Homo sapiens: one gene and its partner. The protein of the gene in region 1 interacts with the protein of each later gene in a biochemical or structural test. Each region holds a gene or a part of one and is shown on either strand. Other genes may lie near its edges.

Region 1 (3,786 bases):
GCAGAAAAATCACCCAAAGGTAACATCTTGCCAGACCCATTTTTCAACTGGAGATTTACCTGACAGCGAATCATAACATGGGTCACTTTAGACTTGCCGTCATTGCTCTCCCCTTTGTCATCACCAGTGCGCACAGAAAGAACAAAATCTCCAGGGTGGCTCTGGCTCTCTCGTACAAGAAAACTACCATGTTTTCCTTTTTCAGTTAATAATTTCTCTGCTTCTTTCCCAGAGAGATGTCCATGAAACCACCTAAAGTTTTTAAAAAATAAAAAAGAATTTAGCTCTACTATGGGTTCATGTTGTTCTTTCACAAAACTACTGTATACAGTCAGCTCTCCTAAACACAATTAAAAAGTAGACACATTCCTCCAAGGGATTGATCAATCCCACCTGAGACAGAAAATCTGCATCCCATGCAGGCAGGAAAAACCACAAAGATGGTAAGAATGACCACTAAACTTCTTAAATGAGTCCACAGTCCTTTAGAGACAAATGCCCCAATCTTTCCTGTTTTTTTTTAAATCCCTCCTCTTTTAAAAATGCAATTTGCCATTCGTCCATTGCCCAATCTTAAAAGGACCAACTGTTTAATTATAGCCATTTAAAGAAGTTACAGGCCATGCATAGTGGCTTATGCCTGTAATCCCAACACTTTGGAAGGCCAAGGCAGGAAGATCACTTGAGGCCAGGAGTTCAAGACCAGTCTGGGCAACACAGTGAAATCCCCATCTTCACAAAACAATTAAAAATTAGCCTGGCATGGTGGCAACTGCCTGTAATCCCAGCTATACACAAGGCCGAGGCAGGAGGATCACTTGAGTCCAGGAGGTCGAGGCTGCAGTGCGCTATGATCATGCCACCGCACTCCAGCTTGGGTGACAGAGCAAGACCCTGTCTCAAGAAAAAAAAATAAAAGTCGGCCGGACGTGGTGGCTCATGCCTGTAATCCCAACACTTTGGGAGGCCGAGGCAGGTGGATCACCTGAGGTCAAGAATTCGAGACCAGCCTGACCAACATGGTGAAACCCTGTCTCTGCTAAAAATACAAAATTGGCCGGGTGTGGTGGCAAGTGCCTGTAATCCCAGCTACTCAGGAGGCTGAGGCAGGAGAATCACTTGAACCTGGGAGGCGGAGGTTGCAGTGAGCTGAGATCGCACCATTGCACTCCAGCCTGGGTGACGAGCGAAACTCCATCTCAAAAAAAATAAATAAATAATTTGTAAAAATAAAGTCAAAATAAAGAAGTTGTAATAAAAAGTTGTAATAGAGACAGGCACGGTGGCTCACGCCTATAATCCCAGCACTTTGAGAGGTCAAGGTGGGCGGATCACCTGAGTTCAGGAGTTTGAGACCAGCCTGGCAAACATGACAAAACCCTGTCTCTACTAAAAATACAAAAATTAACTGGGCATGGTGGCACATGCCTGTAGTCCCAGCTACTCGGGAGGCTGAGGCAAGAGAATTACTTGAATCTGGGAGGCGGAGGTTGTAGTGAGCCGAGATCGCGTCACTTGACTCCAGCCTGGGTGACAGAGTGAGACTCCATCTCAAATAAATAAATTAAAAAAAAGAAAGAAAAAGTTGTAACAGAGACAGAAAATCATTTTGAATGTTTGTCCTTGCCTTGGCATGTGAACACTCAATTAAAAAGGATCTTCATTATAAATTAATTCAAACATTCCAACCTTTTCCATATATACAACCTATACTTCAACAGCCTCCAGTGTCTTTGGACTATATCCTGGGTGATCATCTCAAACTGTATAATGCACATAAGACTTGGAGTAAAAATGAGGGATTTTGCTAAAAATATGAATTCCCAGGCTCCACAACCAGCAATATCAATACATGTAAGTCTGAATGAGGCCCAGGAATCTGCATTTTAACCAGCACATCAGACAGTCCTGATGTAGGCATCCAAAGCCATCCAAGGACAGACTTTGAGACAATACTGCTCCATGTTTTTTGGGAAGCATCTTAACATAGTTCTAATAATAAAGTGGCTTTTTCCCTCAGGATCTTGGTCAGAAAGCAAGTACTATCATGGCAGGTGGTGTTAAGGGCTCATCATCAAAAGAATAAACTTTGAGTTATTCTTCATCCATACTCAACTGAAAACAGTAAAATTTAGAAATAAACTGTACAGAGTTGGCTGACAGCCTTTTGCCTGAAGCTACGGTGGTAGCTAGAGAAACAAATTATCAGCACATAATAGCACTGACATAAAGGTATAAGCTGAAAAAATCATACCTGAAGACACAAAATATACAAACTAACTAAGAGATCCTGAATTTGCACCAAGTCAGAGAGGAGATTGGGAATGTACAAAACGAATACAATCAATAAATAAGTCAAGCCCATGCTTTCATCAGCCTAGTTCCAACACAGGGGGAAAGATCTCGAAAATAACATAATTTTCTCTAAGCAAGGTCATTCTCACATAATTGTGGTGATAACATTAAAAGAACTGATGAAAAAGCTGACCCTCTGAGCTCTCTGCTTTTCCACTTCTGAGCTTAAACTGACATCTGTTGGTGACATTGCTGAATAACTGGTCGAGAGCCACCATAGAAAACTGCTGCTATTTTGGTGTCTCCATTATCATTTGTTTTCCTCTAATAACTCTCAAAGATTATCTGCTGAAGTTCAATAAGTCTTAAAACTAATACACGTACCAAGTATATGCAGGAATGGTATGCAACCCCTATAGGATGAGTGTAAGTAACACTGATTAAAACTTTTGCAGGAAAAAGGTACTCTGAAAATAATTTGATGCTATTAGTCTCACTTTAGTAATTCTTTAAAGATTACAGCTCAAAAAACAGTCACAAGCCTTTGGAGTCAGAGAGTCATACACAGACCGTCATGCATTTCTGACACTCAGGGCACAAGGGAGCAGCAGACTTTGTGGTCACTAAAATGTTACTGACCTTTCAGAGGTAGGATCTGCACAGTTCAGAGGATATTTAAGCTCAATGACATCTCCATTCTTCTCTTTTAATTGCCCGTGATGTTCCATGTAATACTGGACCAACTCAGCCAAAGTGGCAAATTTCTCCCCTCCATACAGGTCATAGTAATCACCAGTGTTCTGAATCTTGATGTGGGTGACAGCTCCATTTCTTCTAAAATAGTCCATTGGAAAGGGAGGCAAGGGGACAAATAAAGAGTTACACCAGTAAAATCAGATCTCATCTTCCACGTCGGATTTTACCTAAGTGTTGAAAGAAACCCAAGGAACGAATTTACCTATTCCCTATAAGAAATACGATGGGTGAAATAACCACATGTCAACCAACTCAACACAAAGGTCTTTATTAGTATCTTTACCTTGCATATCTTTTTTTTTTTTTTTTGAGATGGAGTTTCGCTCTTATTGCCCAGGCTGGAGTGCAATGACGTGATCTCGGTTCACCGCAACCTTCGCGGTGGATTTACATACATTATAAATCCAGGTTCAAGTGATTCTCCTACCTCAGCCTCCCAAGAAGCTGGGATTACAGGAATGCGCCACCACGCTCAGCTACTTTTGTATTTTTAGTAGAGATGAGGTTTCTCCATGTTGGTCAGGCTGGTCTGAAACTCCTAACCACAGGTGATCCACCCACCTCGGCCTCCCAAAGTGCTGAGATTACAGGCGTGAGCCACCACGCCCGGCCTACCTTGTATATCTTCTATTTTGAATGACTGGCCTATCGAATTGCATATATTAAGTGACAATAACTGTATAGCTACCAAAACACTTGTACAAAAATATTCATTGCCACTTTATTCATAATAGA
Region 2 (3,786 bases), on another chromosome or scaffold:
TTTTTTTTTCAGTTTGTCAGTGTAAACAACACTGCTTACTTTTGAACCCATTCCACAAGAGGAAGCAGCCAGGGACGGGTGTCTGCACGCCTGTCCCTATGGAGGCGGGGCTGGGGGGGGCCCTGGAACCAGGATGCAGGATAGATGGTGACTGACACCCACAGTTCGTCCTGCCCGTGGGGGATTTTGACGGGTGGGCATGGCCCTGGAGGAGAAGGGGGTGTTTGGAGGGGAACAGGTCACACTCTCGGGAAACAAAGTGGGGAGGCTAAGCCTCGAAGTGTTTCCAAGAGCAAGTCAGAGCTCAGAGAAGGGTCCTGTCCCAGACTTCACTGGGCTTCTAGGGGATGCTATCTTATTGCTTTCCAATTCCCCATGGAAGCGGCCAAGGCCCTCTGTGTGGTCAGGCTTGGTAAGGAGGACCCAGGAGATGAAGTAGCAATGGGAGAGGAGGGACACAGGCTGGGGCCCTGGGGCTGATGACAAGAAAGCAAAGCTGGGGTGGGGGTATTGACGACTCCTCCTTCCCTCGCTGCACACGGCCCCTCTCCACCAGCAGCACTCCCCAGCTGGCCGAGGCCCAGGGTAATAGATCTTTCCCCTCCCTAGACTCTGGGCAACTCCAGGGCAGGGATGTTGTACCCATGTGTACTGAATGAATGAATGAAGGAAGGAACAAATGAATGCATGCATGCATGAGGCTGGTATTCCCTGCCCCCTGCCCCCAGCACTAAATGTGCACCGTGATTGACAAGCAGCTGTCACTATCACTTCAGAGACCCAGGCCAGCTCTCCAAATCCCCACAGGCCCTTCCACTGCCTCACTAGATGAGGCTGGGGAGCCCTGACTCTGCAGGCACTTCCGGGAGCAGCCCTCAACACACCACTGAATGCTCAGAGCTATGTGGCAACTGGAGATGCCCTCCGGGCTCCAGTACTGATTAAAATTCAGGTGTTTCAGACAGAATTTATGCTGGAAATTTTAGATACCTTTAAGAAAAATAGGTCTTATCTAGAGCCATGGTGGGATTTTCCAGGAAAAACGCCACTGTGCAATTACGGGAGCATTTCCCCAGACATTTCCCCAGTCATTGAGACAGTAAACAATGGGTGAAGTGAAATACTGAGAAGGATGGGCGAAGATCTGGGTGCAGTTTATGCAGTGAGAAGATGGCTTCATTTACTGTCCTAGGGCTGGTTTTCAAACACACCTTCATTTACTGTCCTGGGTTTGGTTTTCAAACACACCTTCATTTACTGTCAGGGTCTCACTGAAAGTACACTAAGAAAGCTGGAATTAGGAGCATGACTTCATGAACCTGCCAACTGCTCTTCCCTGGGGTAAGTATCAAAACTAATAAATGCTGGACTTTTTAAAAGCCTGCCCCAAAATACAAAGCACTTTAAATGACAGCTGTACTTTAGTGACAAATACTCCCCACATTATATATGAGAATGAATCAGACATAAAGCACAGCTTCTCTGTAAACTTGACCAGCTGCAGAGCTCCGTGGCATCGTCAGCTTACCTTGGCTTTTTTGTCATCGCTTCCAGTCCCGTCTTTGCTTTTACTGACCATGCGAGCTGATAAAATATAAAATAAGAATGCTTGTCACACTCCATTTTCACTGTTCACAGAAAGCCAGCTGTGGTGAAGCTGGATTTCTCTGGGATAGGTCCATGTTTGTTTAGTTGGGTCTGGTGGAAACCCAGTTGGTTCTCTTTTCCCTTGAATCTGCTAGGCCTCGCATTGTTAGTATCAACACAGCACACTGGGGTCACTGATTAGCGCAACCTGGCAAGAGGGGGCAGCAGGCTGGCCGAGGGTGGGACCATGCAGAGGGGACGCAGCAGAAACTGTCACGGGGACATGATGGCATGGAGGCTATCTAAGGAAGGTGCAGTCTCCCTAACCCACAGGCTCCTGCCCTGTTTCTGCCAGGGTCAGCCTCACCCCACTGGGACCAGCCCCACTCCATGGATGGGTGTTTTAAAAGCCTCAGGGCCATGGATGTTGGTAGCTCAGTGAGGACCCAGCCTCCTGCAAGATCCAAGGATGGGGGTGGGTGCATTGTCTCCACACTGCAGCCAGGCTTGGCCCTGATTCCCTGTGAGGTGCCTGCTCACCCTCTTGGCCTTGGAAACTGCCTGGAACCACCCGGCTCCCCTGCCCATGTGGCTAGATTGCCAGCAGTCCTGATTTCCACCTTCCTGGCCATCTTATGCTGACCAACCCATCTCCATTTCTGGTCACACGCCTCCAGAATAGGAGAGGCTGGCAGGGTTGTCTTTGTCCCCTAGTTGCTGGTTGTACCCCCAGGGCCTGCCCCTCACTAATGGTGGCTTTGGCCACCAGCCCCAGCTGCTCTGAGACGAGCCAAGCCCAGCCCAGCCCTGAGCCAGGCCTGGTGGGTTTCTTGCCACTTACTGGTCTTCAAAGGGCACGAATTCTCACTGCTTCCCCAAATTAGCTACAAACCAGTTACCATCATACATTCCCACAGACAACATCAGCCTTCATCACACTCCTTGGTGAAACCAACCCGCTGACCTGTCAGCCAGCATCAGCGCTAACTCACCCTTCTCCTTCTCTTGACAGTCACTGCTGAAAACTGATCATAGATTTTCTTCTTTGGTTTCAATATCACATTCCCTCTACCCCATGGACAACTGGGTCTCTTGGAGCTTCTCATTGGCTATTGTCACCTGGATTTCTAGAGGGACCAGCAATGAGTATGCCCAGAGGTTTTCCAACTATACTATGTGGCAGAATCACCTGCTAAAAGACTCCCAGGCTTACCCCACAACTGGGTCTGTAAGCCTAAAGTGGCACCTGGGAACCTGCACTTTAGTAAGAGCCCCAGGCGGATCTGACTCACGTGTTCTTTGTTTTGCCCACATCAACCAGCACCATCCACGGCACAACAAAAGAATCTGCTAAATCGGCATTTCCCAAACTTCCTCCAGGAAATGTTAGCAGGTAGAATCAAGTAAGTTTGGGAAACCCACTCTGTGACCTTCTCAGAGGGTCACAATGGCCATTAGTACATTAAAGGCTCTGACAAGTCCTGCAGCAGAAAAGCCTGTTTAACTTACTTTAGTCTTTTATTTTTTTCCCCCAGTCACTGGGCCATGGAACTCTTTTTTAATCCAAACACACCTATGAACCTCTAGTAGGCCAGTATTCAAGAAAACATCATTTCAGGAAATATTGTAGTAACCTGTCAAGTCAGTTATTTGTCCCCTACTGTTTTGGAATTTAACAAAGGATATAGGATATATTTTTTTCTCTCTTAACTTTATTTTATTTTATTTTTTGAGACAGAGTCTCACTCTGTCGCCCAGGCTTAGGGTACAGTGGTGTGATCTTGGCTCACTGTAACCTCTGCCTCCTGGGTTCAAGCACTTATCCTGCTTCAGCCTCCCCAGTAGCTGGGACTACAGGTGCCCGCCACCACGCCCAGCTAATTTTTTGTAATTTTAGTAGAGACAGGGTCTCACCATGTTGGCCAGGCTGGTCTCGAACTCCTAACCTCAAATGATCCACCTGCCTTGGCCTCCCAAAGTGCTGAGATTACAGGCGTGAGCCATCGCCCCCAGCCTCTGTCTTAACTTTTAAACACAGGCTTCTTTATAGCATTTCAAAGTTTTCCCTAAAAGTAAAATCTAATAAAAATTTAACAGATGCTTGCAACTGTGAGCTTCAGTAACATCCATTTCTGGGCTCTGCAAATAACTGTGAAATGCTAAGGGTCCCAAATTTATGAACAAGCTCGCCTTGTGGCT

The links.
Region 2: of the proteins of PTPN11 (region 1) and MAPT, one has a biochemical effect on the other in vitro, tested with the Homo sapiens proteins (one study listed by BioGRID).

Annotation. Positions count from the first base shown.
Region 1 is NC_000012.12:112,449,661-112,453,446, reverse strand, and holds part of PTPN11 (tyrosine-protein phosphatase non-receptor type 11), read right to left. Parts: intron 3,130-3,786; coding exon 2,935-3,129; intron 253-2,934; coding exon 60-252; intron 1-59. UniProt on the Homo sapiens protein: Acts downstream of various receptor and cytoplasmic protein tyrosine kinases to participate in the signal transduction from the cell surface to the nucleus. Positively regulates MAPK signal transduction pathway. Dephosphorylates GAB1, ARHGAP35 and EGFR.
Region 2 is NC_000017.11:45,984,838-45,988,623, reverse strand, and holds part of MAPT (microtubule-associated protein tau), read right to left. Parts: intron 1,585-3,786; coding exon 1,529-1,584; intron 1-1,528. UniProt on the Homo sapiens protein: Promotes microtubule assembly and stability, and might be involved in the establishment and maintenance of neuronal polarity.